Linked DNA regions of Homo sapiens. The protein of the gene in region 4 purifies or fractionates together with the protein of the main gene of each other region. This does not show direct contact. Each region holds a gene or a part of one and is shown on either strand. Other genes may lie near its edges. The genes, in order: B3GALNT2, TMED2, ARL10 and CHST8.

The links.
Region 1: the proteins of CHST8 (region 4) and B3GALNT2 purify together in Homo sapiens (affinity purification with mass spectrometry; 4 studies listed by BioGRID and IntAct, with this or other methods). This does not show direct contact.
Region 2: the proteins of CHST8 (region 4) and TMED2 purify together in Homo sapiens (affinity purification with mass spectrometry; 4 studies listed by BioGRID and IntAct, with this or other methods). This does not show direct contact.
Region 3: the proteins of CHST8 (region 4) and ARL10 purify together in Homo sapiens (affinity purification with mass spectrometry; 4 studies listed by BioGRID and IntAct, with this or other methods). This does not show direct contact.

Annotation. Positions count from the first base shown.
Region 1 is NC_000001.11:235,500,634-235,508,986, forward strand, and holds the start of B3GALNT2 (UDP-GalNAc:beta-1,3-N-acetylgalactosaminyltransferase 2), read right to left. Parts: upstream 3,820-8,353; 5' UTR 3,620-3,819; coding exon 3,508-3,619; intron 1-3,507. UniProt on the Homo sapiens protein: Beta-1,3-N-acetylgalactosaminyltransferase that synthesizes a unique carbohydrate structure, GalNAc-beta-1-3GlcNAc, on N- and O-glycans. Has no galactose nor galactosaminyl transferase activity toward any acceptor substrate.
Region 2 is NC_000012.12:123,594,023-123,599,717, reverse strand, and holds the end of TMED2 (transmembrane emp24 domain-containing protein 2 isoform 1 precursor), read right to left. Parts: intron 3,114-5,695; coding exon 2,989-3,113; 3' UTR 1,136-2,988; downstream 1-1,135. UniProt on the Homo sapiens protein: Involved in vesicular protein trafficking. Mainly functions in the early secretory pathway but also in post-Golgi membranes.
Region 3 is NC_000005.10:176,367,699-176,375,486, forward strand, and holds part of ARL10 (ADP-ribosylation factor-like protein 10), read left to right. Parts: intron 1-247; exon of another isoform or gene 248-333; intron 334-1,108; coding exon 1,109-1,284; coding exon of another isoform or gene 1,285-1,554; exon of another isoform or gene 1,555-2,258; intron 2,259-4,023; coding exon 4,024-4,197; 3' UTR 4,198-4,523; coding exon of another isoform or gene 4,524-4,550; 3' UTR 4,551-7,788.
Region 4 is NC_000019.10:33,687,312-33,695,475, reverse strand, and holds part of CHST8 (carbohydrate sulfotransferase 8), read right to left. Parts: exon of another isoform or gene 7,876-8,164; intron 6,301-7,875; 5' UTR 6,215-6,300; coding exon 6,085-6,214; intron 1-6,084. UniProt on the Homo sapiens protein: Catalyzes the transfer of sulfate to position 4 of non-reducing N-acetylgalactosamine (GalNAc) residues in both N-glycans and O-glycans.

The DNA.
Region 1 (8,353 bases), on a different chromosome or scaffold from region 4:
CATGTGAGCCTGTCACAGATCTAATGATAAAGACAATCATCATACACACTACCAAAGACACCTCCCAAAACACCACACTAGCACAGGCATCAGCGGCCACCAGACTACCACTCCTCTCTCAAACTCATGGAGTGTTTACTATGAAACAGGCACTGTTGCGGGTGTTTCATTAATTGAATCTTCACAATAAGTCTATGAGATCATCATCTTATAAATAAGGAAACTGAAGCACAGAGACACAATTAGCATATAGGGATAATTTTGGAAGAACTCACCCCAGGCAAAATTACAAAGCAAGCTCAATTTGTTTTCTGACCTTCTACTTGCTCTACATCTGTTTCCATTAGATACTGTGAGCACCTTGGGAGAAGGGACTAGGCATCCAGCACAGAATCTAACACTCAAGTACTTGTTGAGTGAATATGCTCCTTTGTTTTGGTTTCTTTCTTTCCAGATACCCTAGAAAGCGAAGCCTTCTTTTGTCACATCATTTTTCTAAATTAACCGTTAAATAATTCCTACTTAAGGCATTACCCAAAACGAGCATTTTGTAATCAAGATATCCTATGTTTAGATTCCTTAGTCCGATGGTTATCTCCACCTGCATTTTCCTCTGTCACCCTCAGGTGTACTGGATTTCACTTCCTCTTTACCAGTTGCTTTCCCTGACTGGTTTAAGGGAACCTATCACATTAAAAAAGTTGCTGACTCTGGTACTAAGGTGACTCACTTACTTCATTCTGGTCCCTGCTCAACTGTTACCTCTTCAGAATGGAATGGACTTCCCTGACCTATTTAAAACCATCTCTTTAATCTCTTAACACTGCTTTATCTTTTTTCCCTATACTTATCACTACCGCTGTGATATTTATAATTATTTCCTGATGCTCTGTCTTCCCTTCTAAATTGTAAACTACATGAGGGCAGGAAGTTTAGCTTGATTACTGCTGTAATTCCACACCTACGATAGGAGCTGGCACAGAGTAGGCTCTCAAATATTTGCTGAATCAACTGCGAGCCAAAGAACCTTTTTTAATATTCAGGGAAGGTAAATCGCTCTTTCAAAAAAAACAAAGAAACTGCCATTACTTAATGAGACTGAAGACAGACAAAGCAGCAGAAGAGAAAAAAAAATACATTTAAAAATGTTAATTCAAGAAAAGAATACTTAGCAAAATCTTGGGTTTTTTTTTCTCCTGTTAGGCTTAAAGTACAAGGGTTAAAATGTAAAAACACCCAACTATTTTAGTTTCAACATGGTGACAGCACAATGGTAAAGGAATTATGGGAAATTTTAGCATTTAAGATGCTTCCACTGCTTTTAGCTTTGAAAGTACCAAAAGGAAAAAAGGAAAGGTAGGAGTCAGTCTTGTTTAATTAATTAATTAATTATTTTGAGATGGACTTTCGCTCTTGTCACCCAGGCTGGAGTGCAGTGGCGCAATCTCGTCTCACTGCAACCTCCGCCTCCGAGGTTCAAGTGATTCTCCTGCCTCAGCCTCCTTAGTAGCTGGGATTACAGGCATGCACCACTATGCCCGGCTAATTTTTGTATTTTTAGTAGAGACGGGGTTTCGCCATGTTGGCCAGGCTGGTCTTGAACTCCTGACCTCAGGTGATCCACCCACCACGGCCTCCCAAAGTGTTGGGATTACAGGCGTGAGGCACCGCGCCGGGCCAGTCATGTTTAACTTAGATTATTAAAATATCGATGGTTGACAGCTGCAGCAAACCACCATGGCACACGTTTACCTATGTAACAAACTTGCACGTCCTGCACACGTATCCCGGAACTTAAAAAAAAATCCCATTTATTATCTGACCAGATACACAGTACTCATTCAAAGCCAAAGTTAATTAACATAACTAGTATTGATCTTCTTACCTACGTTATTACCCTGTTCCTTTCTATGGTCTACTTCTTCATTTCCTTAATCTAGCCTGGTCTAACTACTGGATGGCAGATAAAGGCATCATCCTTCAAGTGCAGTAAGGGAGTAGGAAAAACTTGTCTCAAACTAGAAAACTGCCTAGCAAGTCTACTAAGATTTCAGTTTGAAGTCTACTAACATTTCAGTTTTTGTTTGTTTTACTGAACCCTAAACAACCATTAAGGCCATAAACAGACTTAATGACGCTCTACAAGGAGATTCCAGCAGGGCTCACTCATAACAAAAGAGAGAAACCTGTAACACACAAGCAGCTGTTACAAAGCATTTTTTATATATGGCGTTCTCTTCTTAGTTCACTTCACAAAAACCTAAAAAACACTGAGCAAAACCCTGACCCCATCAACTGGTTAAGTGCATAGCAACACTGTACTTTCATTAAATCACTTAAATAGTGTTTAATTCTATTCAGGTCACACAAATCCTTTTCAAAGAGCTAGTGATCTAATAGGAAAAGAGATTGTTACCAAAATAACCTCAACATAATTTCATATAACTGAGACTGTTTTGAGGATTGCCGAATACTTTCTACTTATAAGGCATAGAGTGCTGAACTGCAAACACTCAATTCTAATTTTAAGAACTTTTGGATTAGAAAACAGCTGTTTTGGGGAGAGATGGTAAGGGAAAAAAGTCCCAGTATAGTTACAAAATTAAGTATTACATAATATTTAAAAGAGCTTTCTAGGTTTCTTTCATGTTCTAGGGCAAGCCCTTAAAGAAGAAGACAAGAGATACAGGGAAAGCTAAAGTAGTGTTCAGGGTGGTGGAACCCACTAACAAAACAATCCGCTGGGCACCGTAAGTAAAGCATTCTATTAGGCTGTGACGCGAAACAAGAACAAAGGTTTCATTCCTACGAGAGATTAAGTTTTAGAGCAAATGGACACGATCGTTAAAGAATTTGATATTTCCATGTAAACTGCATTAGCAGGTTATGCGATCCAAACTCACAGGAACAACTCCAACTCTCGGCCATGCCCTATTTCATGTCTAGATTTGTTTAACCGACTTACATCATAATCCAAGAATACGAACTACAGTATATTCTTACAGCAAAGTTATTCCTTAAAAGCAAAACCGAGCCACCTTTGAAAACACGCACACACATTATCCACGGCACTAAAACCCCAGTCTTGACCGAGAAAGACCAACAACTTGGGGGGGAAGAAAACAACTTCAGAGCCAGAGCTCCCAAAGCAGAAAGCGCTGGCGGCTGAAGGGCACACGAGGTTCCGCTCCCGGGCGAACGGGCGGCGTCGGACATCACTAACCAGGCCTGGGGACAGGCGAAGGACTTGCAACTGCGGGCGCCGGCTCTGCGGGCGTTAAGGGAAACGGGGAAGTGAGAAGAGGCGGGGACACGAAAAGAGAAAAGCTCCCTCAAGTTTGCCCGATGTTAACGCTCCAAGGATGAAAAGAGCCGTTTGTTTCGTCTGGGGACCGTCGCGTTTGGCCCTTCCCCCGCCTCCAACAATTCCCGGCGAAGCCCCGCGGCACCAAGCCGGGCCTCCCACCCCCCCGGCGGCCGCCAACCCGCCCGGCCCCAGGACCTCACCTGCAGGGCCGGCCCCGGAGGCGCAGGCGGGCGGCGGGGAGCGCAGCCGCAGCCAGAGGTGCAGCGCGGCCCCGAGCACACACGGGCACAGCAGCACCAGCCAGTTTCGCATTGGCCGCCCCCGCCGCGAGCCGGGCTCTCCCGCGTCCCGGCGGAGAGGGAGGGGACCTGCAAGTGCGGAGACTGAGGGGCGGCGGCTGACGAGCGACCACTCCGAGCACGCCCGCCCTCGCGCTCGGCGACGTCTGGGGGGCTCCTCGCAGCTCCCGGCCCCGCTCCTCCGGTCCCTCAGACCGCGGGTGGCCGCGGCTTAGCCGGCCGAAGCCCCGCCCCCTCCGCCTGGCCTTCCCACCGGCTCCGCCCACCTTTTCTCCCACTCGCCCCGCCCTCTCCTCCCGCGTTTCCACACGCGCCAGCCAGCCGGCCGGGAGCTGAAGTCCCGCTCTGGGCCCAGGCAGGGGGCGCCCGCGGTTTAGAAACCACATTTCCCATGAGCCTAAGCACGCGCTTCCGTCACTCGGCGGCCGCGGGGGCGAAGGGCGAGGCCCCACACAGAGCATGCGCATCCCCCTTGACGTTTGCTGCCACCCCACGGCCCAGGGGAGGTAGTGCCGGAGACCCGGTGCTCGGAGGCTGCCCGGAGCCGCGAAGGGAAATGCGCTTTGCCTCAGATTTGAAGGAAATCCGAGTGGCTCTTGTGTGAAATCACGCAGAGCTCCTTTGTTCCGCGTGCTCTCTTGCTCGACTGCTGTGGGAGGTGGGATCCTGCTGACGTCTCCTTGGCCCGTAGAGTGGGGCGAGGAAGCCCGAGTGTCCGCGCCTGGAGCGGTGACTCATCAGGGATTAGCTCTGGTGCCGTGGGTTCCCGGCTCTTTGCCCGGTTCTGTGCTCTGGGAACGCAGGGTGACAGACAGCGAGCTGGGGACTAGGCTGTGGAACACGATGATGACGAGCCAATCAGGGTAGAACTGCACGTGCTCCGGGTTCATACTGGAGCTGGGAGCGAAACGGGAGCCGGGCGAGCTGGGAGAACGTGGGCTCCGGGGACCTGGGGAAGGGTGGCCGCAGCGAGCCTTCCAGGGAGAACGCCGGCCCCGCGTCTTGAGGCTTTGCCCCGGGTGGGAGCCCTCCTGGCCCACCAGGCCCGCGCCGAGGCAGCCGGAAAGCGGGGACGGGGCGGTGAAGGCACTGGGGTGAGGATGGGAGAGAAGGATGAGAACGAGCGGCTGGGCTATGGGGCGGTTTTTGTTTCTGCTTTTGTTTTTGAGACGGAGTCTCACTCTGTCACCCAAGCTGTAGTGCAATGGCGCGATCTCGGCTCGCTGCAACCTCCGCCTCCTGGGTTCAAGCGATTCTCCTGCCTCAGCCTCCTGAGTGGCTGGGATTACAGGCGCCCGCCACTGCGCCCAGCTAATTTTTGTATTTTTTTTGTAGAGACGAGGTTTCGCCATGTTGGCCAGGCTGGTCTCCAGCTCCTGACCTCAGGTGATCCGCCCGCCTCGGCCTCCCAAAATGCTTGGATTACAGGCGTGAGCCACCGCGCTCGGCCGCGGTTTTTTTTTTTTTTTTTTTAAGTTTCCACAAGTGTGGAAACAGAAGGTGACTGTATTATTGAAAAAAAGTCTTGGATGACAGAAGACCCAACTCAAACAGGCTTAAGGGAAAAAAGTACTTTGGCTCGCCGTGGCTCATGCGTGTAATCCCAGCACTTTGGGAGGCCGAGGTGGGCGGATCACTTGAGGGCAGGAGTTCGAGACTAGCCTGGGTAACATGGTGAAACCCTGTCTCTACTAAAAATACAAAAATTAGTCTGGCGTAGTGGTGGGCACCTGTAGTCCCAGCTACTCAGGAGGCTGAGGCAGGAGGATCGCTTGAACCCAGGAGGCGGAGGTTGCAGTGAGCCGAGATCGCGCCATTGCACTCCAGCCTGGGTGACAGAACGAGACTCTGTCTCAAAAACAAACAAACAAACAAAAAAAAAATAAAAAGAAAAGGCAAGAAAGTAATAATTGGTTGCCAGAAAAAGTATACTATTTTTATCCTCAGGAAAGGTAGTAAATGGCCTCTGTTGATATTGTAAAATTTTCATTTTGTGAATTAGAATGAGTTATCCTAAAAAGAGGACTAATCCCTCATTTCAGCAGAGCTAGTCATTCGACAAATACTTATTGAGTGTCTATTATGTACCAGACACTTTTGTAGGTACTTTAGATACACCAGTGAACAAAATAAAGATCCCTATCCTGTGTTGATGGGGAGTAGGGCGCAGACTATAGACATAATAAAGAAATATACTCAACCAGCATGTTAGAAGGTTATTCCTGCTCTGGAAAATATAACAATTAGGGCCGGGTAGGGGAATTGTGAGTGTGGGATTGAAATGACACAGATTGCAGTATCAACTAGCAGTATTTAAACAACTGTTCAAAGTTACAATGAGCACTAAAGGGAAGAATAAACATAAGTCATCCGAATATATTAAATAATCAAGGTGTTGTTTCACTTAACAACCTAGAGGGGAAGTTTTTCACTGGCTCTCTGACAAGCTTGTAACAAAAATAGTTTTGAATAACTTTGTAACATCCTTCAAATCACATCAGAGTGGGAGCTGTCTATAGTACTTGTTCATAGGACCAGTGACCTTTCCACTTACCTGTTTTCTACTGTCCCCTAATAATCTCATGACTAAAGTGAGTGAAGATTGCAAGACAGTAATTCCTGTAATCCCAGCACTTTAGGAGGCTGAGGTGGGAGGATCACTTGAGTCCAGGAGTTCAAGACCAGCCTGGGCAACATAGCAAGACCTCGTCTCTACAAAAAATTAACAATTAGCTGGGCATGGTGGTATACGCCTATAGTTCCAGCTACTCGGGAGGCTGAGGCAGGATGATCACTTAAGCCCCAGAGTTCAAGGTTAGAGTGAGCTATGATCACACCACAGGACTCAGTCTGGGTGACAGAGTGGGACCTTGTTTCTAAAAAAAAAAAAAAAAGGTAAAAGTGACAGTATGTGTAATGGAAAGAATAAAAAAACTCAGTAGTGATATAAACAGTCTGTGCACTCAAGGGGCTCATAGGGTAAGTAGGAACAAGTTAACAGAATTAGAATTAGGGAGAGACAAACTAGGGTGGTTGGTAACCATGATGGCAATTCAATGTGATAAGTGCTCTGAGAAAGGAATGCACAGGATGTTAGAGCAGCACAAAGCAGGGGGTACAGCTGTCTCTACTCATGGGGGATTGGTTCTGGACCTTCTATGGATACCAAAATTCATGGATGCTCAAGTCCCTTATATAAAATGGTATAATATTTGCATATAACATACACACATCCTCTCATATACGCGAAATCATCTCTAAATTACTTATAACACCTAATATGATGTCTACGCATCACTTCATTCACGTGGATTCAATGGCATGCGCAAATTCAAGTTTGCTTTTTTCCTGAATTTGAGGTTGGTTGAATTCATAGATGCAGTACCCAGGGATATGGAGGGCCAACTATATTTAACTCTACTCAAGGGTCCCCAGAGGAGGCTATCTCTTGAAAATACAGGGCCGGGGCTTGAAGTCAAAGTGGCCAGTTAACAGGGCCAGAAAGTAGGAAGGACATTCAAGAGCACTGTAGGCAAAAAAATAAAAAATAAAATAAATAAACCTGAGCTAGTGATGACACGGCAATTAGGGAAATGTAAGCAATTGGTATGACCTTAGTGCAAGTTAGGAACACGGCAATGATGAGAAGGTGAACAGAAGGCAGAGGCCAGGTTGTAATCATAAACTTTGCTAAGGAATTTGGACTTTATTGTGAAGGCTCTAAAGAAGAATTTTTTTTTCTGATTACCAATGTAATACATGATTATGAAAAGGATCTTGGAAAACAGAAGAATATAAGAAATCATACTACATACAATTCATACATTTTTTAAAAGTTTTTTCATTAAAAAAATTTGCCATTCATACTGTAAGTTAGAATTTATATCCAACTATTTTCACCTAACCTATAAGCCTTCCCATATTTAATTAGTAGTCTCAGAAAATATAACTTAATCATTTGTCCACACTATAATTTCTTATCTGGTCCCGTATTATTGGACATACAGGTTGTTTCCATTATTCCACTATAATAAGTAATACTGGCACTTCTGTGCACAAAACTTTTTCCACATTTCAGATAATTTCCTTTTCTGATATTATTTTTAAGCCGCTTTATTCATACTGCTATTGTTTCAATGTGTATGTCTGCCTTCAATATGTTTCTCTTATCTCACCCTCATATTTTAAAAAAGTTCTTTATTAATTCAAAGGACAAAACTTTTCATCAATGAGATTGAATATTCTTATGTTCGTTAGCTGTTTCTATTTCTTTTGTTAATTAGTCATGTATCTTCCTTTTATCCATTTGTATAAGCCCTTTATTTTTCCTCAGTTTTCTTGCCTTCTAATTTTATAACTTTTAGGACACAAAAACACTTTAAATTTTTATAAATTCAAATGATCAATATTTAATTTTTTTCCATATTTTAGGATGATTCTGATCGTGAGATCTGGTCAATATTCTTGTTTGTTTTATTTAATGTTTTAATCCATTTGGAATTTATTTAGGAATATGGTGTAATGCAAGGATCTCAAAATTAATTAATTTTTTTCATATAGCTAACTATTGTCCTGGCCCATTATTTCCCTATTAGTTTATGACATCACCTCAATTTATTAAAAATTTTTAACATAATAGTATTTGTTTCCAAGCCACAGTTTTGCATTCATCTGTCCTTTCATCAGTACCGTAATACTCTAATGATCCTAGTTGTATAATATTTTGTAATCCAGAGGGCAATTCTCC
Region 2 (5,695 bases), on a different chromosome or scaffold from region 4:
CCTATTAATCTGCCTATTTTCAGTTGAATTTTTAGAGAAACCTGAGAGCAAAGGGGAAGTTTTCCCTTACACTCCCTTACATTCCACTTGGACTTTTGAAATCAACTTCTGTTACCTTCCTTTCTGTATCACTGAAACTCCTACCTTGATTTATGTTCCCTTCTTAGCATTTACCATTATCTCTTTCTCGCCACACACACACAAACACACACACACACACACAAAACTTATTAGGTTCATCTCTGCCACCAAAATGTAAAACCCACACTAATAGGGTCTTTTCTCTATCTTCTTTATCCCAAGGACTATCACTGTAGCACACAGCAATCACTCAAATATTTGTGGGATTGATAAATGGGAATACAACTCATGCAGACTGCAGTCATCTCAAATTAAGTAAAAGACAACAGCCTGAAGCCACATTTTCAGTGAAATGATCATCACATTCTCAAAACACCTTTGACAACTTTTATAAAATGGGACTTCGGCTAGGCACGGTGGCTCATGTCTGCAATCCCAACACTTTGGGAGGCTGAGGCAGGAGGATCACTTGAGCCCAGGAGAATGAGGCCAGCCTGGGCAACATACAGGAGACTCTGCCTCTACAAAAATAATTTTTTAATTAGCTAGGCGTGGTGGTGCATGCCTGTGGTCCCAGCTACTCGGGAGGCTGAGATGAGAGGATCACTTGAGAGGTTAAGGCTCCAGTGAGCCATGTTTGTGCCACTGCACTCCAGTCCAGGTAACAAAGCAAGACCCTGTCTTTAAAAAACAAAAAATGTAGTCCCAGCTACTTGGAGAGCTGAGGTGGTAGGATCACTTGAGCCCGGGAGGTTGAGGCTTCAGTGAGCAGAGATCAAGCCAACCTGGGAACAGAGTGAGATCCTGTCTCCAAAAAAAGAAAAGGTGGGAGACTTCACAGACAGTTCTGAAAGCAAAGGCACAGGGAAATTACATATCTGTGTGTGTCTTCTGGGCTCTACTACCTACTAGTTTTCTGACCTTAAGACCCTTTCCAAGCCTGTTTTCCTCCTCACTTCCAAAATGGTTTTACCCAAGGTAATGGCAGTTTTGAAGCATGAATAAGACAGACCAAGTAAAGTGCTTAGTACTAGATCGAGACATTACACAGTACTCAAGAAATGGTAGCTACTTTTATTACCAGCAGGCCGTTAGTTTCACAGAGGAAGAACAGTTTCTACAGGTGGTGATCTAGTCTCCGGTTCCACCTTTCACTCTTTTCTGTGGCCTTGGGCAAATCATTTAATCTGTCTTTGAAGCTATTTCCCACATTCATAAACTACGTGGGCAAGTGAAAATAATTCAACCCTTTTTTCCCAAATAGAAAAATACTTAAGATTTTAGCACTGATCCATCAGAGAAGCCACACTGGAAAACCTACGCAGAAACTAAAACTTGGTACCATTCACTATCCTCAAGTTTATAGAATTAAAAAGTAACAGACGTAATAGGTATAAATACTCAGAAAACATGAACATGTCTCATGTCAAATAAGAACAGAAAGTTGGTGTGTAAAAAATGTGGATTAGCTGTCAATATATAAAACACAGAATACTGTTTTTAAAAAGAATTGTTTATTTACCGAACCTGGGGCATATTAGATACAACCAATTTTAAATTTACATCTTTTAAATCAGTTTTGAAGTGTTTCACACACACAAAAAACTTGGCATGCAACAGTTGTCCTAAGGTGAAAGTCACCTCATTAATAAACTGTTGCAAGTGTTCTCACCCAAGGTGGAAGTATGGTTTATCCTGAACATGAAAACCTGTAACAAATTTAAATTAATTATATAAAACTCGTTACTTGTAGTTTTGCCCTTGCAAAGATCCAAAAAAAAAAAAAAAAGCACAAGTAACTAATATGTATCAGTCACAACATAATCCTGGATCATCCCCATACCAAAACCGGATGCTCTTTTAATTTTAAACCCATCATCAGAGAACAAGAGAAAGTAATTTCATTTTACACAAAACAAGATTCACATGTGCCAAAAAAGAAAGACCCAAAAGAAACAAAAACCAAAACCCTAATGCTGACACTGATGGTCAGTACCCTGAACAGTGGCCCAAAGGCCACTGATCAAAAATAAAATAGTGGCTGTATATCAATGAAATGAAATCCAAGAAGCTTTAACCCTTTGGCATCAGAAATCCAGATTTTTCCAATTATGTAAATGCTTATTTCTTACATGCCAAGAGTGGGAGAAGTGAATGTGCCAATGTGGAAAGAAAAAAAGCCACCACTCACTGGGACACCCAGAGAATTGGCTTTAACAGACAATTAGGGGGTTAGGCAGAAACCCAGAAATGGTTATTAGCTGCTTGTGTCATCAATTTAAGTGGAGATGACTGAGTCCTAAGGTACAATGTAAAAATGTATGTGGGAAAATGTATGCTGAGTCGTAGTTTTAAAGCAAAACAAGAAAACAAAGTATGAAAGTACCCAGCCTGGCAGCATACACCCAAGTCAGAGAGCTCTGCCATTAGGACGGGCAGAAACCGTCAAGATTCATACTGCTGTTTCTCATAAGGACTCAACAAAAATGAATCTTTAGTGACTTGAACCATAGACTGAAGGAATCCAAAGAATGCAGTCATTTTAGTAAAGTACTATCAGGCTTTGTGCTGATTTCCTGAACAAACTGCATTATATTATGAAAACAAAAGGAAAAGAAGAAATAATAAAAACTATACTCCCATATTTCACTTACAGTGTTTGAGTTCCTGGAAGGACCTATATAATGGAGGCAGCATTCAAACAAGAAATTATGCCAATCAACTGTCAAATTTTCACTATAATTTTCCTAAAAAGGCGTTTTTCCCCCAATATCTATTAATCTCAAAGAAACATAAGTTGTGAATGTACAGTTCAGAAAATAAAAATGGAGAAACTAATGACATTATTATGACCAAGGTGTTTGGTAAACAGTGAATTCTGAGTTGGGATCATCAGGAAGAGGCTTTTTAAACAACTCTCCGGACTTCAAAAAATCTCTTCAGGTAGTAGATCTGTCCCAATGTCATGGCAACTAGAACAAGAGCTTCAAAGAAGGACCAAAGGACCACTCTGCTGTTTGTGTTGTCGTTGACTGTTGAGGACAAAACAAACAAACAAAATTTAACAATTCTCCCCCAAAAAGACATAGGCATCATAAATATTTTAGTCTTCACTCTGTGTGAAAGTAATATTGTGTACACCACTCATAGAATAGATGTTCCTCAACTTACGATGGGGTTACATCCCAATAAACCCAGCTTATGTTGAAAATACATAAGTCAAAAATATATTTAATACACCTAACCTAGCAAACATCATAGCTTAGCCTAGCCTACGTAAAACACGATCAGAACACTTACATTAGCCTACAGTTGAGCAAAAGCATCTAACAACACAAAGATTATTTTATAATAAAGTGTTGTGTATCTCATACACGTTAAACTGCATTTTATTATTATTTTCTATTTTATTTATCAAGTTAGTGAACACTGCACTGAAAGTAAAAAACAGAATGGTTGCATGGGTACTTGATGCTCAGTTTCTTCTGAATGCACATCACTTTTGCACCATCATAAAGCTGAAAATTTCTAAGTGAAGTCATTGTAACCTATGGGTCACCTATACTCTAAATACTTTTGTCTCCAAGCAACTCAACATACTCCAAAGCAAAGACTTTTTTGTTTGCTCTGTTGCCCAGGCTGGAATGCCATGACACAATCATAGTTCACTGCAACCTTGAACTGTACTCAAGCAATCCTGCCACCTCAGCCTCCTGAGTAGCTGGGAGTACAGGTATGCACCAGCCCATTTGACTAATTTTTTCTGTTTTTGTAGAGAAAGGGTCTTGCTATGTTGCCCAAGTTGGTCTTGAACTCCTGGCCTCAACTGATCCTCCTGCCTCAGCCTCCCAAAGTAGAAGCAAAGATTTTTAAAAGAAACCTTAAAGATTCACTGGGTACAGCCAAGTCCATTCTGCTTGTATATGGGGAGCAGAGAAGAAAATGTGACTTGCCCAAGGTCATAATTCTAGGGTTAAAACCCAATACAACCATCTTTCTCCCTCACCATTGAAACGTCCTGTATTAGTATCCAATTTGCTGAATCAGAAAACTGACTTCTAAAAAAATTAAGGAATTATTTCAAAATCACAGTTATCCAAAATGCAATTATTTACAACATCAAAATATGGCAGTCTGAGTGTCTTTTTCCCCAAATATGTTACAAATATTTGTTGAGCACCTGTGTACTTGTCAATTGTTCTCAATGGAAGAGGTTACTCAGTTATATGGATCCATACTGACAGTTACTACCAGACCATCAAATACAAGACAAACTATGCTCATCTGTCCTGCTCTCAAACTAAGGATTTGATCCTTAAAGTAAAATCCACACCTACTCTATATTTACTATACTCTATTTGTTACATTCAAGTTTCTGATCAAATTCTTTTTATTTACTTACTTTTTTTTGAGTCAGAGTCTCACTGTCACCCAGGCTGGAGGGCAGTGGCGCAATCTCAGCTCACTGCAACCTCTGCCTCCTGGGTTCAAGTGATTCTCCTGTCTCAGACTCCTGAGTAGCTGGGATTACACGTGCACACCCCCATGCCTGGCTAATTTTTGTATTTTTAGTAGAGATAGGGCTTCACCATGTTGGTCAGGCTGGTCTTGAACTCTTAACCTCAGGTGATCTGCCTGCCTCGGCCTCCCAAAGTGCTGGGATTATAGGCATGAGCCACCACGCCTGGCCAAATTCTTTTTATTTTTAAATGTATTTTATTATTATTATTATTTTATTTTTTATGTTTTGAGACAGAGTTTCACTCTTGTTGCCCAGGCTGGAGTGCAATGACGCGATCTCAGCTCACTGCAACCTCCACCTCCTGGGTTCAAGCGATTCTCCTGCCTCAGCCTCCCAAGTAGCTGAGCTTACAGACATGTACCACCATACCTGACTAATTTTGTATTTTTAGTAGAGATGCGGTTTCTCCATGTTAGTCAGGCTGGTCTCGAACTCCCGACCTCAGGTGATCCACCCACCTCGGCCTCCCAAAGTGCTGGGATTATAGGCATGAGCCATCACGCCTGGCCAATTTATTTTATTTTTTTAAAAACGGTCTCGTGTTGCCCAGGTTGGTCTCAAGCTCCTGACCTCAAACAATCCTCCTGCCTCAGGCTCAGAAGCAGCTAAGACTACAGGCACAAGCCATTGTGTCCAACTCTCCAGTCAAATTCTATAGCCTTAGCTTTTAATTACTATGTAGGCTGGGCACAGTGGCTCATGCCTGTAATCCCAGCACTTTGTGAGGTCGAGGCGGGTGGATCACGAGGTCAGGAGATCGAGACCATCCTGGCTAACACAGTGAAACCCCGTCTCTACTAAAAATAAAAAAAATTACCCAGGCGTGGTGGCAGGCACCTGTAGTCCCAACTACTCGAGAGGCTGAGGCAGGAGAATGGCGTGAACCTGGGAGGCGGAGCTTGCAGTGAGCCGAGTTTGCACCACTGCACTCCTGCCTGGGCAACAGAGCGAGACTCCATCTCAAAAAAAAAAAAAAATTCTATGTAGTGTTTTATTTTTCTGCAAATAGCCAACATTAAAAACAATTACACTATAATCCCAGGACTTTGGGAGGCTGAGACAGGAGGACTGCTTTTGCTCAGGAGTCAGAGG
Region 3 (7,788 bases), on a different chromosome or scaffold from region 4:
TGCCTCTTCCCATGGCTGGCTCCTTCTCATCATCCCACTCAGCTCACATGCCACTTCCTTGATGAGACCTACCCAGACCACCCAATCCAGGGCCAACCCCTGTTCCACCTCAGCCACTTTCCCTTTTTTCTGTTTTATTTCTTTCCTTTTTGAAATGTGTTGATGTCATTGCCATGTCCTTCCCAGTTAGGGAGGGAGCTCCTTGGTGCAGGGCCCCTGCTTGCCTTGCTCACCTCTGTATCTGCAGCACCCAGATCAGTGCTTGGCACCTAGCAAGCACTCAGTAAATATTTGTTGAGTGCCTGCTATGTGCCAGGCATTGTGCTGAGGGCTTTGTGGGGATTCAGAGGTAAGTGCCTCTGACTCTCACAGCTTAGAATCCTCAAGTGTCAGAAACATAGCCAGAAACACTAGGGTGCGGGGTGACCAATGGGACTGTGCAGAGGAGCAGAGAGGAAAAGAAAGGTGATCCAGGCTGGGGGACTGTGTTGGCAACCATGTGTTCATAGGATGAAATATGACATTTCCAAGGGAAAAGAAGGGGATGGGGGAAACTGAATGGAGAATGGCTGTGTATAGGCAGGGCAGGGGGTCCTGAGTTTTCTAGACAATAGGACTCCTGGCTCCTGTCACAGCCATCACTGACAGTTTTGAACCTGTAGGAGAAAGCTAGGAATTAGCAAGAGGCAAAGCCAGACAACCCAGGGGAGAGAACTGAAGACTTCCATTTACTGAGCACCTGTGTGTCAGTCCCGTGAAAGGTACATCGCACGTGGTACCTGTGGGTTTTACTGCAACAACCCGTTAGGAAAGTTCAGTGAGGAGACTGGTGCTTAAAGCTAGGGACTTGCCCCAAGAGACCCGCCTATCAGAGCTAGAGCTAAATCCAGTCTGAGTAGCTGCGGAAACTGCGGTCTTTTCCTTGCCCCCGGCTGGTGGAAGCTCACTAAGCTAGAAGCAGGGTGGGGTGGGGGCTGTGGGCAGTGAGCGGGGGCCCGGGGTGGGGTGGGGGCTGTGGGCAGTGAGCGGGGGCCCGGGGTGGGGTGGGGGCTGTGGGCAGTGAGCGGGGGCCCGGGAGGCTCTGAGCTGGCCCCTGGCCTCTCCTCAGTTGGGGGCAGCCAGAACCTGCGCTTCTACTGGAAGGAGTTTGTGAGCGAGGTGGATGTGCTGGTGTTTGTGGTGGACTCGGCTGACCGACTGCGGCTGCCCTGGGCCCGACAGGAGCTGCACAAGCTGCTGGACAAGGACCCTGACCTGCCTGTCGTCGTGGTGGCCAACAAGCAGGTGAGGGCTGTGAGAGGGCAGCTCGGTCCAGGTGACATCCACTCAGAGATGCTTGGGCAGGGGCAAGGAGCGCTGCCTGGGCCCATGGCCTGGAGAGGGTGGCTGAGATGCTGCCCCCACCTCTTCTACCTATGCCCTGTCCTGATCCCTGCCTCTGTCTTCCTTCCTCTTTGCCTCCCTATCATCTCGTACTCTGGAGAGATGAGAAAAATAATTATTAAGTGCCTCCTATATGCCAGGCATGGTGTTTTGTTTTTGTTTTTTTTTTGAGACAGAGTCTTGTTCTGTCGCCCAGGCTGGAATGCAGTGGTGTGATCTCGGCTCACTGCAACCTCCACCTCCCGGGTTCAAGCAATTCTTGTGCCTCAGCCTTCCGAGTAGCTGGGATTACAGGTATGTGCCACCACACCCAGCCAATTTTTGTATTTTTAGTAGAGGTGGAGTTTTGCCATGTTGGCCAGGCTGGTCTTGAACTCCTGACCTCAAGTGATCCGCCCGCCTCAGCTTCCCAAAGTGCTGGAATTATAGGCATGAGTCACTGTGTCTGGCCCCCAGGTGTGGTTTTGAATAACATTTCTTCTTATGCTTCTGTTGACCCTATAAAGTATGGGATGCTATTCCCATTTTATAGATGGGACAGGCTAGTCTTATAATCTTTCCAAGGTTGTACATCTTGAGAGTAATAGAATTGGTCCAGGCGTGGTGGCTCAAACCTCTACCTCCAACACTTTGAGAGGCCAAGGAAGGTGGATCATTTGATTCCAGGAGTTCGAGACCAGCCTGGGCAACATGGTGAAACTCCGTCTCTACAAAAAAAATGCAAAAAATTAACTGGGTGTGGTGGTGCCTGCCTATAGTGCCAGCTACTTTAGAGGCTGAGGCAGAAAGATCACTTGAACCCAGGAGGTCGAGGCTGCAGTGAGCTGTGATCACACTACTGCACTCCAGCCTGGGTGACACAGCGAGACCCTATCTCAAAAAAAAAAAAAAAAATAGTGGAATTGGGACGTGTAATGCTAAAGCTGTACCTTTTCCACTCTGCTATGCCCTTGCAAATTCTGGCTCTAGATCAGAGAGCTGAAGCTGGTAACTGATGAGAGGTAGAACAGGTTAAATAACAGCTAACATTTATTGTGTGCTTACGGTGTGCCATACATGTGGTAAGCACCTGACAATCATGACCTCACTTCCCTCTAAATACCTCGTGATAGGCCCTGCTGTTACACTAAATACCTGGAGTTGCAGCTGGCATGTGGCAAAGCCCAAACTTGAACTCAGATATTCTTCAAAGTTCCTCCTCTTAACCAGTGTGCTGTACCTCTCTTGGGTGCCAGAGAGTCGCCTTGGGCCCAGGAACCCTCAGTATCACAGACCTTGGGTCCCATTCTCAATATCAGGTGAAACTGCCAGAGTACAGAGTCTGATCATATTTCCTGTGGCCTAAACTCAGGTGCCTCTGAGAGCTGTGGGACCTGTTTCCAACTTGACATGGAGAGAGACTGTATGTCTTCGACCTCAGATTCCCCAACCTATTAGGAAACATTTGACAATTATTTATAAATAGGGTGACTGTATGTCCTTTTCTGTCCAAGACAGTCCCCATTTACGACTCTTGTTCTGGCACTATTAATAGTGCCCGCTCTGAGCCTCAGATTGCCCCAGTTTGGACCAGGAATCACATCATGTCCTATTTATAAACTAATTTATAGCAGTTTTGAACCTGTAGGAGACAACATCTAAGGTCCCAGCAGTCTCTGAATTGCTCCAGGAAGAATCATTTAAATCTTGGGCCAGGGTTGAAATTACAACATACCATCACCAGTCATGCTGTGTAGTGGTCCCTTGTTTTCCTCCAGCTAGTTTCTAGAGGTCTTGTCTGGAAGTGATCCTACTGTATCATCTCTCCATGACTGAGTTTAGGAAACTTGGTTATCAAACCAACCTGAGTTGGCACCTGGCTCTACCACCTATCACTGTTACCTTAGCTCAATGATGTCACCTCCCTGAGCTACTTTTCTCATCAATTAAGTGTGGACTGTGAACATTAAATAAGCTGAAGTATATACGGGCCTATCTACAATGCTTGACACATAGGAAGTGCTCTATTTCTAGCCGGGCGTGGTGGCTCATGCCTGTAATCCCAGCACTTTGGGAGGCTGAGGCAGGTGGATCACCTGAGGTCAGGAGTTCGAGACCAGCCTGGCCAGCACGGCGAAACCCCGTCTCTACTAAAAATACAAAAATTAGCCAGGCGTGGTGGCTCACACCTGTAGTCCCAGCTACTAGGGAGGCTGAAGCAGGAGAATCGCTTCAGGATTCCACCACAGGAGGTGGAGGTTGCAGTGAGCCAAGATCGTGCCACTGCACTCCAGCCTGGGTGACAGAGCAAAACTCCGTCTCAAAACAGTGGCTAATGATGCAATGAAAAGAGGTTGGTACAAAGGAGAGCCCAGGGTGAGGGAGAGAGCATTGAGTTTAGGCCAAGGGGTCCAGAGGCTACTTCTGGGAACTTGGGGCCTGATATTCCCGGGGATAGCCTAAGAACAGTGTGTTTCCTGATATTCCCGGGGATAGCCTAAGAACAGTGTGTTTCCTGATATTCCCGGGGATAGCCTAAGAACAGTGTGTTTCCTGATATTCCCGGGGATAGCCTAAGAACAGTGTGTTTCATGAACGACAAGGGTGTCAGTGTGTTAGGAAATGCTGCCAGCTGTGTTCGGACTTCTGTGTCTCACCCAGGACCTGAGCGAGGCCATGAGTATGGGGGAGCTGCAGCGGGAGCTGGGTCTACAGGCTATCGATAACCAGCGGGAGGTTTTCCTCTTGGCAGCCAGCATTGCCCCTGCAGGACCCACCTTTGAAGAGCCTGGCACCGTGCACATCTGGAAACTGCTCTTGGAGCTCCTCTCCTAGGCTGGAGCTCTCCTGCTTGCCACCTGCCTGTCAAGACCATAGTTGTACTGCTGCTGCTTCATTGCCAGACTGGGCCTGGGGCAAGAGCCACATGGCAGCATTTCCCTTTTCCCCTCCTTTGCCTTTCAAGAGCAGGGCCTGGGCAAGGCCAAGAACCATGCAGAAGCCTTCCTGGTGAGGTGGCCGTGAAGCCGAAGCAGGGAGGTGGGTGAGACAGAGGGTGGGGAGGATAGTGTCTGGCTCATTCCAGGCTGGAATGTGGATCCAGCTTTCCCTTCTCTTACCTGTACAGTGAGATGCTCAGTGGGCTCAATCCTCCACTACAGGTCCCGGTACCTGAGGAACCAGTGTAGGTGTCAGAAATACTCCTAGAGCCTCAAGGTCTCCCAGTCCAGAAACAGTCTGGTGACGTCATGCCCTTCTCATGTGGGCAGCTTCTGAGTGGTGACACAGCAAGCCTTTGTTCCTGTCCTGCATTGTCCAGCCCCAGCTCCACCTAAGTGACTTGTGGCCTTGTGCAATCTCTGCCTCTCTGACCCCAGGGCCATTATTTTTAAAGGGAGGTGGTTTCCTAATTCGGAGATGCCTTTCCCAGCCATGGGAGTGTGAAGTGCTAGGATGAACCTGGCCATCCTAGCAAGGAGCTTTCTGAAGACCTCCCTGCCTTTCCCTGAGCCCAGGCCTGGCCTGCCAGCCTCTCTTGACTACAGAATAACTGATATTCACCCACCAAACAGAAAAAGTGAAGGCTGGGTTTTTCCCCTCTAATCTGGAGACAAGCTGCTGCTCTCGTACTAACTGTGCCAGTGCCCATGTTTACAGAAGTCAGGGGAAGGAAGGAGCCTGTGTCCCTGGGACGACAGTCAACTGGAGCTAGGTGTTGACCTCAGAACTGCATTTTATTTATTAATTTATAAGCAGAACAGGCCAGAGTTCTAGGCTCTGTTTCTAGGTGCTGTTTTCAAAACCCCAGATGACAGTCATAGAAAATTTGGAACTTAGGAAAATAGCTGGAATCATGAATGACAATGAGATAACATACAGATGTCAGTGGAGACAAAGTTGTGGGTTCCTCCTCCCACCTGGCTTTGAGGCTGTCGTCGATATCATAGTACTTTACATGGATTCACATGAACTGAAACGCCACCACTTGGCCCAGGATGTTGAAAGGGTGCAAATTCCTTCTGGGTAGATAAGAAATGACTCTGGGAGAGGATTTCCCTTATGTGAATCTAGGTAAAAAGATGGAAAAAAATTGTATTATGTGATCCTAAGGACAGGAATAGCAGACCAGCCAACGGGATGGCCTTGGGTACATCACTCAGCCTTTCTGGACCCAATTTTTCCCCAGTGAAAGCCAAGTTGGACTGAATTTCTGGAGTTCTCATCAGTGCACATTCCATAGTTCTCCAGTGCTTGGCGATCAGCCCAATTGAAGGACTGGCTCTGTACTGACACTTATTATCGGTACAGGCAAAGAGGAGCCTGTTGTCTGTTAGGGACCACTAAATCAACAACCACAAATGGATTTTTTTTTTAAGAGGAGCTGTGCACCTCAATTTGCTGTCTAGTTGAGAATAGAGATTGTGTGCCTTCATTTCATTTGACATTTACCCAGCATGCCTCAGTTCCACACCGTGACCAGTGTAAGAAGAGGAACTATGATAAAAACAGTTCAACAAGCCGCAAGGAGGGTGGGAAATTCTGAAGTCCAGAAGCGAGTGTGATCTTTGGAATAGTGGCTGCTGTGCCCTTGGGCGCCATTTGAAGAATCACTGTTCTTGAAAGTGCTGGTTCACTTTCTGCAGTAAGAAGTGATTTATGGGCTTTTATGTAAAATTTTAAGAATGACTTGGGTTTCAGAGTAGCCTTTGAAACTTTGCTGGCAGCTTTTCATTTTGTCATTGGAAGGCTAAGAGACTTTTCTCCTTTGTTCTATGAACTCCTTGTTCTTCAGGGCTTGAAGGCAAAAAAACCTTAGACAACTTTAACGAAGTTTAAAAAGTATGTTCTGTTTTTGAGCAGAAAAAAGATTCGTGAACTGGTTAGTACTTAGCACCAAAAGCAGTTCAGAATGCTCAGCCCCACAATGTGTGTAGGCTACATTTATAGCCAGAGAAACGAAAATAACTTAGGTTGCCTGATTGGCTGCAGTCTGGCATTTGCCTTACCTGAACATGTTTTAGCAGCCTTCAGCCGACGATTGACTGAAGGTTTGGCTGCTGTGATTGGCTAAAATTCGGCTACTTGTTAGAAGAACATACTTTTAGGTTAGGTTACGAGTTGTTTACACGTTAAGTTACAATTCACTGTGTACAGAGGCAGCTTTAGGCCAGACTTAATTCAGCTTCACAGTGTCCCTCATTTTGCTCAGCCCCTTAATTTTGAGAGATTGACCAAAATCCCACGCACTGACACTACCTTCTGTCACTATTTGACCTCATTATGGAACTCACAGTTTACAATGTTAAATCAGTTAGCGGATTCTGTATGTCTTCATGTTTCTGTTACTCTAACCGTAATGAGACCATTTGAGGTACAAAGGATGACTGCATTGGTGTACTTAAGACTACAACACATCAGTGGGGACCTTAGGATGGCTATCAGGAGTGTAATACCAAGAAACTGGAATGCATCCCTTAATATGAGTCTCCACAAACCAAACTGATTGGAATCAAACAACTCAAGTTCAGACGATAAAAATAGTTCAACAGCGTGCAAGCTCTGCTGCTCATAGCCTGTTCAGGGTATAATGGCAATTAAGGACATAGTTCACTATGAAGTACCTTAATTGTAAAGTGTTTGATTTTTTAGTTAGCTTTTGGTAACACAAGTCATGGTGATTGGGATACCCACTAAAAGAAACATGAAGATTAGAAAACCTTGAACAGCTAAGCTTGCTGTCTACCATTCAGGATGCCTGCAAACCAACCACTAGCTGCTCCTGCAAACACATTATGTGTTCCTTTTCCCTGAGAAATATCCTTGATGTGTTTGGTGGCAGTATCTACAGAAGCGGCAGCCACCACCGCCTTTTGAAGCTCTCCATAGTAGTAGAATCAGGAAAGATAAGCACAGCGTTCAGTTTTGTTCAGCACCATACACAAGCTCCTAGCTGGGCAAAGGAAATCTAAAGCTGCATGAAGTTCCATTACGTGTTTTTGTTGAACACAGGTGGCCTCATCCATCCATCCATCCATCCATCCATCCATCCCTCCATCCGTCCACCCGTCCACCCGTCCACCCATCCACCCACCCACCCATCCATCCACCCACCCACCCACCCATCCACCCATCCATCCATCCATCCACTCATCCACCCATCCACCCATCCATCCATCCATCCATCCATCCTTCCATCCATCCACCCATCCACCCATCCATCCATCCACCCATCCATCCATCCATCCATCCATCCATCCATCCATCCATCCATCCATCATCCACCCATCCATCCATCCATCCATCCATCTGTGGCTTCTACCTGTGCGAATCTCTGTGCTACAAAATTCTTTTCAATTTAGCATTAACTTTAATTTCCATACAGTTGGCACCTCACTGCCGCCAAAAGTGAGTCCGCAGGAACTCCAC
Region 4 (8,164 bases):
AGAACTTACCCACGTAACCAAAAACCACCTATACCCCCAAAACTATTGAAATTTTAAAAGTAGTAAATGAGTATTAAATATATGAAAAGTGCTTGTGATTGTGCCTGGCTCATCTCGAGGGCCTGAGAGCATTAGCTAGTATCAGTATTGTTGCTACTTCTGTGTCTGCCCCAGTGAGTGCTGGCACATTGTCTCAAACTAGACATCGTTTATTTGTAAGAATCATACCTAGCCAGTTGTGGTGGCTCACACCTGTAATCTCAGCACTTTGGGAGGCTGAGGCGGGAGATCACTTGAGCCCAGGAGTTTAAGACCAGTCTGGGCAACATGGTAAGATCCTGTCTGTATAAAAAATAAAATAAATAGCTGGGTGTAGTGGCGTCTGCCTGTGGTCTCAGCGGCTCAGGTAGGAGGATCACTCGAGCCCAGGAGGTCAAAGCTGCAGTGAGCTTTCATGGCAAGACTATACACCAGCCCGGGCCACAGAGCAAGACCCTGCCTCAAGAAGGGAAGGGAAGGGAACAGAAGGGGAAGGGAGGGGAGGGGAGGGGAAGGGAGGGAAGGGAAGGGAAATTATATGCATTAGAACATGTAAAGCTAGGCGTGGTGGCTTACGCCTGTAATCCCAACACTTTGGGAGGCCAAGGCAGGTAGATCGCCTGAAGCTCAGGAGTTCGAGACCAGCCCGGCCAACATGGTAAAACCCCGTCTCTACTAAAAAGATAAAAATTAGCTAGGTGTGGTGGTGGACAGCTGTAATCCCAGCTACTTGGGAGGTTGAGACATGAGAATCGCTTGAACCTGGGAGGCGGAAGTTGCAGTGAGCCAAGATCATGCCACTGCACTCCAGCCTGGGCTACAGAGCGAGACTCTGTCTCAAAAAAGTAAAGTTCTCAATACGAGGCCTGGCCCATGGTAAATGTTCAGTCAATATTCATTATTATCTTCATCGTTAAATTTCCCCATGCCCTGCAGGAGTGCCCCAAGACAGGCCACAGACCTAGGAGTCATCGGGGGCTGTCCAATCCCATTGTCTGTGCCAGGGGTCCCTGAGGGGGATCTTTGCTGTCCACCACAGCTGCCTCCCCACTGGGCACCCTAGAACCACCACCCACAACTCCTTGACTCCAGGAAAAGGCAAAGGGCTCTGAAACATGGGGTAGCCCCACTTAAAGAAAACTCACTCTGCAAAAGCCAAACATTAAAAGAACGAACTATTTACAGTGTGCCAGCAAGAGAATCTGTATGGTAACATTATATATATATATATATATATATATATATATATATATATATATATATATATGAATAAACTACAATAGAATCTGTATGGTAACATTGCATTTATATATATATATATATATATATATATATATATATATGAATAAACTACAACAGAATCTGTATGGTAACATTGTAGTTTTATATACATATCTATGAATAAACCAATCAATCCACACCACTCACTTTGGCTTCATGGGTCACTGACAATGACTCACCTTGCCCCATTAAAACAAAATCCATTCCACTTAAAAGAATGAAGAAGGAGTGATAAAATCAGAACATTGCCACTGTGTAACCCCTAATGAATGGCTGGATCTAGGCACGATCTCTGGCGGCTGATAACATAAGACAGCCAGGCAGACAGGAGCCTCCTGATGGAATAATACAGAACCACCCATGAATTCCTGTCCCCCAAAACTCCCCTAGAAGAAAACAAAAACCAATCCAAACCTGTATCTGATCAAGCTTCAAGATTCACCTAATTTATTGGGACAACAAAGAACAGAGAACAACGTGAATCCTTATCAGACAGGCCCAATCAGCCAAATCTCAATTTACAGAAAGTTCTATAGGAACCGTGACCTGGTTTCCTCAAATAAATAGTGAGAGAAGAATACAGATGGAGAAGGAAACTTACAGATTAAAGGAGACTTAAAAGACTCATCCACCAACTGCCATGTGAGGGCCTTTTCTGGATATTGGATGGAACAAATTGGAAATAAAGGTAATTATATTTGTGAGACAGACATTTGCACACTGACTGACTATTTGATGCTATTGAGGAATCATTAAATTTGATGTTATTAAGGAATGAGTTCAGTGGTGATGTCAATAAAACAGTTCTTATCTTTTAAACTGAGAAATATATTGAAATATTTATGGCTGAGGCTGGGCACGGTGGCTCTCACCTGTAATCCCAGCACTTTGGGAGGCCGAGGTGGGCAGATCACCTGAGGTTGGGGATTCGAGATCAGCCTGACCGACATGGAGAAACCCTGTCTCTACTAAAAATACAAAATTAGCCAGGGGTGGTGGTGCATGCCTGTAATCCCAGCTACTCGAGAGGCTGAGGCCGGAGAATTGCTTGAACTCAGGAGGTGGAGTTTGCGGTGGGCTGAGATCGCACCATTGCACTCCAGCCTGGGCAACAAGAACGAAACTCCATCTCAAAAAAAAAAAAAAAGAAAGAAAGAAAAAAGAAATAGTTATAGCTGAATTGATAGGATGTCTGGTATAGACTTCAAAAATCACATGAAAGGAGGGAAGTGGATGGTGCTATGGATGGGGCCAGCCTGGTGTTGGTGGGGGGTGCTGGGTGCCCGGTATGTGGTGTTCATGGCACTATCCTACTCCACTACTGCATGTGTTCCAAATTCGCTATGATAAAACATTCACAAAGAAAGCAGCTCGTAAAATTCAGTTTGCTCGACCAAATGTGGAGTCAGCCTTCTGCAGCCCCCAGAGCCAGTACATTGGGAATTTTTTGTTGTTTGAGACAAAGTCCGGCCCTGTCACCCAGGCTGGAGCGCAGTGGCACAATCAGCTCACTGCAGTCTCGACCTCCTGGGCTGAAAGGATCCTCCCACCTCAGCTTCCTAAGTTGCTGAGACTACAGGTGTGTACCGCTACACTCAGCTAATTTTATTTATTTTTTTTTGTAGAGACAGGGTCTTGCTATGTTGCCCAGGCTGGTCTAGAACTCCTAGGCTCAAGTGATTCTCCCACCCAGGCCTCCCAAAGTACTGAGATTACAGGCACGTGCCACCACACCTGGCCATTGGTGTTTGTTATTCCTGGTTCTGGCCTGGTCTCCAAGTCTTTCTCTTGGAGAAGAGGTAAGTCTTGTCTACTGGGTCAAAAAGTGAATTTCCTGAAAGCAGAAGCTCTGGCCTCAGGGCCTGGCAATCCTGGAGACTGGAAAAGAATTATAACTGGAGAAGTGAATTCTCTGTTACACAAAACTTCATCTTCGCATCGGATAGCTTACTGGGTAGCTCTTCCTGTTTCCAAAGATTTGATTTGGACTGTAGTAAAAAAAAAATGTTTAAAATGTGGTTTGATTTACAAAAGTCTGGCAACCCCCTACAATTCCATCTACTGCCTGAGCCAGGTGAGCTTGGCTGGCTGATCCATGTAAAGTTCAGGTGCTGTTAATATCCGGTGGCTGCGTGGGAGGGACGTGAATGAGGCCAGGCCCCAAGGGACCTCAAGCAACTCAGAATTCCCGCCACTCCCCATCCCCTTTCTACATTTGTTGTGCCACAAACTGCAGCTCCCAGAGAACTCCGTCCCCAGGACAGTTCATGCCATGGTATGGAATTTCCTCCGTAGATCCGCTCATCTCCACTCCCAGCCCTCCACCCCAACACCTGCCTGTTTGCCTGATCAGGATGGCAGGGCAACTCCCAGAATGTGTTCCTCCCACCAACAGAAATTCACAGGGAGAATTGTCAAGGGCCCTTGGGGCCACCCAGCCATGCAACTGGACACATACACTTTGTAAGCACTGGTTTCCAACAGATAAATGTAATCAAGGTTTATATGCTCAGAGAAGCCAACAGGATGGGATTGTTTCACTTGAAAGATCAGAAGAAAATGTAACTAATGTTGTGGAAAATTACTTTGATATTGCTTTCTTGGTACCGAATCACAATTAGGCTGCCGTGAGAAGTACAGGGAAGGAATAAATGAATAGTAACAAATCAACACAAACAGCCTGTGTCAGAGGCACTTTGCTCAGGGAAAGTAACGTAAGCATTACTTAAAGTTTTATGACTGTGTTTGGTGTGATTTACCCAGACCGTCAAGTCTGCCCATCACCTGGCACGTGGTGAGGGTGGTCTGGCTGCATGGACCATCAGAAGACCCACGTGTGCTCCTTGCCAGGTCTGCCAGCTGCAAAGGGATGATGGCCTCGGCTCCGTGCCATCTGACATCCCCTGCCAGCCTGAGGATCCGATCTTCCCAGAAATCCCAGCCGTCCCCTGGGTCCCCAGCCCACCTGTAATCCACACGTATGTGCACTCGGGAAGCTGGGCAGGGCAACAGGGACCTGCGCAGTGAGCACTCTTGCTGCGGCAGGGCAGGGCACTAGCTGAAGCCACCAAACCACAGTCCCATCCAGGAGTGTCCCACCGATGGGTCCAGGCCCTGGTCCCAGGTGGGCATCACAGGCACACTCATGCCTCCTCTCCCAGGCTCCTCCTGCAGAATGTGGGTACTGGCCGCCTGGACCCTCTGCCTACATGCACCCCCAACCACGCACACACCAAGGACACACCCAGTCAGCGTTTGCTCGCCCTTCTTCCTGACTGTGCTTCTATGCAGATAACACATGACCTTAGGTACCAGCTCGCTGTCTGCCCTGGTGGCGCTGTCCCGAGGGGCCCTGTTCTGCCAATGCAGTGTCATGAGCTGTTCTGGGGCTCATGTGAGGCTGCAAAGCTCCCACAGGAGAGCCGGCTCTGCTGCGCACCTGCTGCTCCAGACGCCTGGGAGCGGCCAGACCCACTTCTGACAGCCACCACCTGTGGGGGCCCGGCACAGGCGTGAGTCAGCACCGATGACTCGCCCACCATCTCCTGGAGGCCACCGCCTTGGCTGCCTCCCTCTGACTCTCAACTCATTCGCCTGCCCATGGGGAGCCTCTGGCAGCTGCCAGACCCAGGGCCCCAGCTCTGGCCTCCTTGTGCTCTTTTCACCTTCCTTCCTGGTGCCCACAGGCCCTCAATCTGCACTAAAGGCCACACATCATGGGTGCTCGTCCATAATGGGGGCGGAGCGGTTGCAGAGTAAGACCCCTTCCTGTGCTCTGGGCTTCCGGCAGGGATTTACGCAGCAACCCCTCTGCCTACACCTCTGGCCCCCTTCTCTTTCATCCTGTCTCTGGATCACAGCACTGAGCAAGCAAGAGAGAGTGAGTGGGTGTCCCTGCAGAGGAGCGGTGTCTCTGGGGGTGCACCAGCTTGTCCATGCCCTAGAGCATGTGGACTGTGAGTGTGTGGCTTCATGGAACTGCCCCTAACAGGGGCCACTGCTGAGACACCTCCCCTCCTCTCCCTCCAAAGCAGAGAGTTCCCAGGCCTTGGCACCCTGCCAGCTGACCTCCTGTCCTTCCATATCTCTGGGGATGGGGACCGTGTCCCGGCAGCAGAAACCTTGCCTGAACTCCCTCTCCACACTCCGTCTGCCCTGAGATGCCAGAATCACCCTTCCTGCTCTGGCCTCCCTGCCATCCCACCTGTTCCCAGCAGCCCTCTGTGACTCCAGTGGGCTACCAGGCAGGGGTGGAATGGAAGTAGCAGTGGGGGACCCTCGGAGGGGGTCTTGGCCTCACTAAACCAGGAGGTACCCTGACCCCCTTTGTCCAGACCAGAGAGGCTAGATTCCCCAGGGCTGGGCAGGGAAACTGAGTCTTGCTTGTGGGGCATGGGCTCAGGGAGAAGTTGTCTACTTTCTGATGTCCCTGACAATGTGGAAGAGGCCTGAGAGGTGGTGGAATCCTGTTTAAATCTGAGTTTCATCAAGGGCAACAACTGGCTCAATAGACAGCAGCCTTGCCATGACTCCCAAAAGGGGCCACCCTGCTGCTAGGCACTGGCTGGAGGTCTTGCATCAGACACAGCACTCCCACATTGAGACTAACGCCTTCCCCGGGAAGCCAGGACTCTGCCTGCCGGGGGTCTTGGCACAGACTTGCCCCTTTCCCCCAAGCCCAGCACACCAGGGCAGCTGTGGAGGCCTGAGCTTCAGGCTGGAAAGCTGGGGGCAGTGATGGCAGGACTCAGCGCAAGGACTCACCTGGCACCTGCTGGGGGGCGAGCTCCGTAGGGTCCTGCAGGCTGATGAAGAGGAGGAGGCCTGCAGCTCCGAACAGCAGGATGGAAGAGAACATGCAGGCCAGCCGCATTGTTCCAGGTCGCAGGGTCATCCGGGGCTGGCTCAGGGGTCACCTCTTGGGTGTGGGGGGCACGTTCTTCCCTCATCGTCCACACCAGGCGTCCATCAGGCCGAGATCTACGGGGCAGAGGAGGGATAGTCATCACCGAGGCGCGAGGCACCCGGGCAGGTGTAGGCCCTGCTCACTGCAGCAATCCAAGTGCAATCCCCGGATGACTCTGCCCTCTACAAGTTACCCAGGGGTGCCCTTTCCATCCTTTCACACCCAGGAGGCTGAGGGAAGCCTGTTCCCACCTGTGGCTGGAATGCTAGCTTTCCACCAGGGTCTCCTGTATCTGCACCTCTGGACAAATCATGGAATGAGACACCCTCTGGCCCTGCCTTGGGGAGCCCAGTTGGGAACCTCCAGGCCCCCAGTCAGTAACCAGCAGCCACCCCCTGCACTGTCCAGGCCTCCAAATAAGCATGCGTGCTCCCAGGGCGGGGGCCTAGGTACTGGCGGGAACCTGGGTCCTTGTCCCTGGTACCCGGCCCGGTGGGCAGAGAAGCTCTTGGATGTGCCTCCACCCTGCTTCTCTCTGTAGGGCACTGGGGACAAGGTCTCCATAGAGCAGGCAGCTCTGAAAAGGAGCCTGCTAGGCTCAAAGGATATTCAAGCACAGACGGACTCTCCTGTGACAGCCAGGGCTGTCCTCACTGATGGACTGACAGATGGGTTGGCGTATGTCAGTCCCTCTGGACAGTCACACCAGAGGGAGCTGAGGCTCTGGCCAGACCACTGGAGTCCCTGTGCTCGAGGCCCTTTGCCTGGAGTGGAGGTGGGGCAGCTAGACCTGTGTCCAACAGACTCCAAGCTCAGAGGCGCAGAGGCTGGGTACTAACACCCCCTCGTGTTCCTGGGGGTGGGCACTAACTGCTCCAGCCACTGCAGACCCAGAGTATACCCATGTGACTCACCCCTTACCCCGCTTCCTCCTAGAGGGCAGGGAGAGAAATTCCCCATCCCCCACATACCAGCCAGTCACGCCAACAGGGCCAGGCTGTGCATGGAGATGGGGGCACCCCAAGGCCATTTGCCCAAAGGAAGAATATAAGTTCCTGCAGTGGTGTGTAGAGAGGGCATGGGCAGAGTACAGGGGGAGAGAGCCACAGGCGGCAGGCACTCTAGGGACCCCCCAACCCCGCTTTGAAGGTCAGTCACTCTGTCCCCTTACTTTCCAGCGGGCCTTGCTGGCTAGGCCGAGAGGATCACCCTTTTTCCACCCAAGAGCGCTGGAGGGAACATCCCCACCCTGGCACAGGTCAGTGCCTGAGGGAGGTGAGGCCAGGTAGGCAGCTCCCAGTAGCCTCTGAGGCCACAGCTGGGTGGCTGTTTAAGCCCCAGGTCAAATATGCTGCTCGGCCCAAGGACATCTCCCTGCCCAGGGACAATACTTCAGCCGGGTGACTCCTCCCCAACACGGACCCAGGCACTGGGGAAAGAAGCCCCCACACCCAGTCCATGGAGCATGAGAGATGGGAAGAGGCACTCTCCCTGCTCCCCTGCCCACGACTCCCCACGACCAGATGGTTCTGAAAAGCTCAAGGGCTAGGGAGGGTAAATTGCAGGTTTGGGTTTCTCCCCTCTGCAGTTTCTATAATTATTTTTTCACTCAGTTAACTTTAATTAACCCGCCCCAGGCCTCTCCGCACCGGGAAGGCACCTGACGCTGGGCTATCTGGACTGTGCCGAGCAGTTGGTTCCTGCGGCCTTCCAGCTTTTTACAGAATCACTGAGCTGGGCCTGTTTTGTCTCTGGAGCTGGCTCCGGGGTGTCAGGCTGGCTCCGACCTCACTGCAATGGCCTCTGCCCTAAAGACAAACTGCTGCTTCCTGTCATCCACCGAGGCCACCCCTGCCTTGCCTGCAAAGAGTAGAAATGGACACTCATGTGTCCCCAAGGGCTCAGACTCAAAGCCCCTTGTGCGGGGCTGGGGCCTCT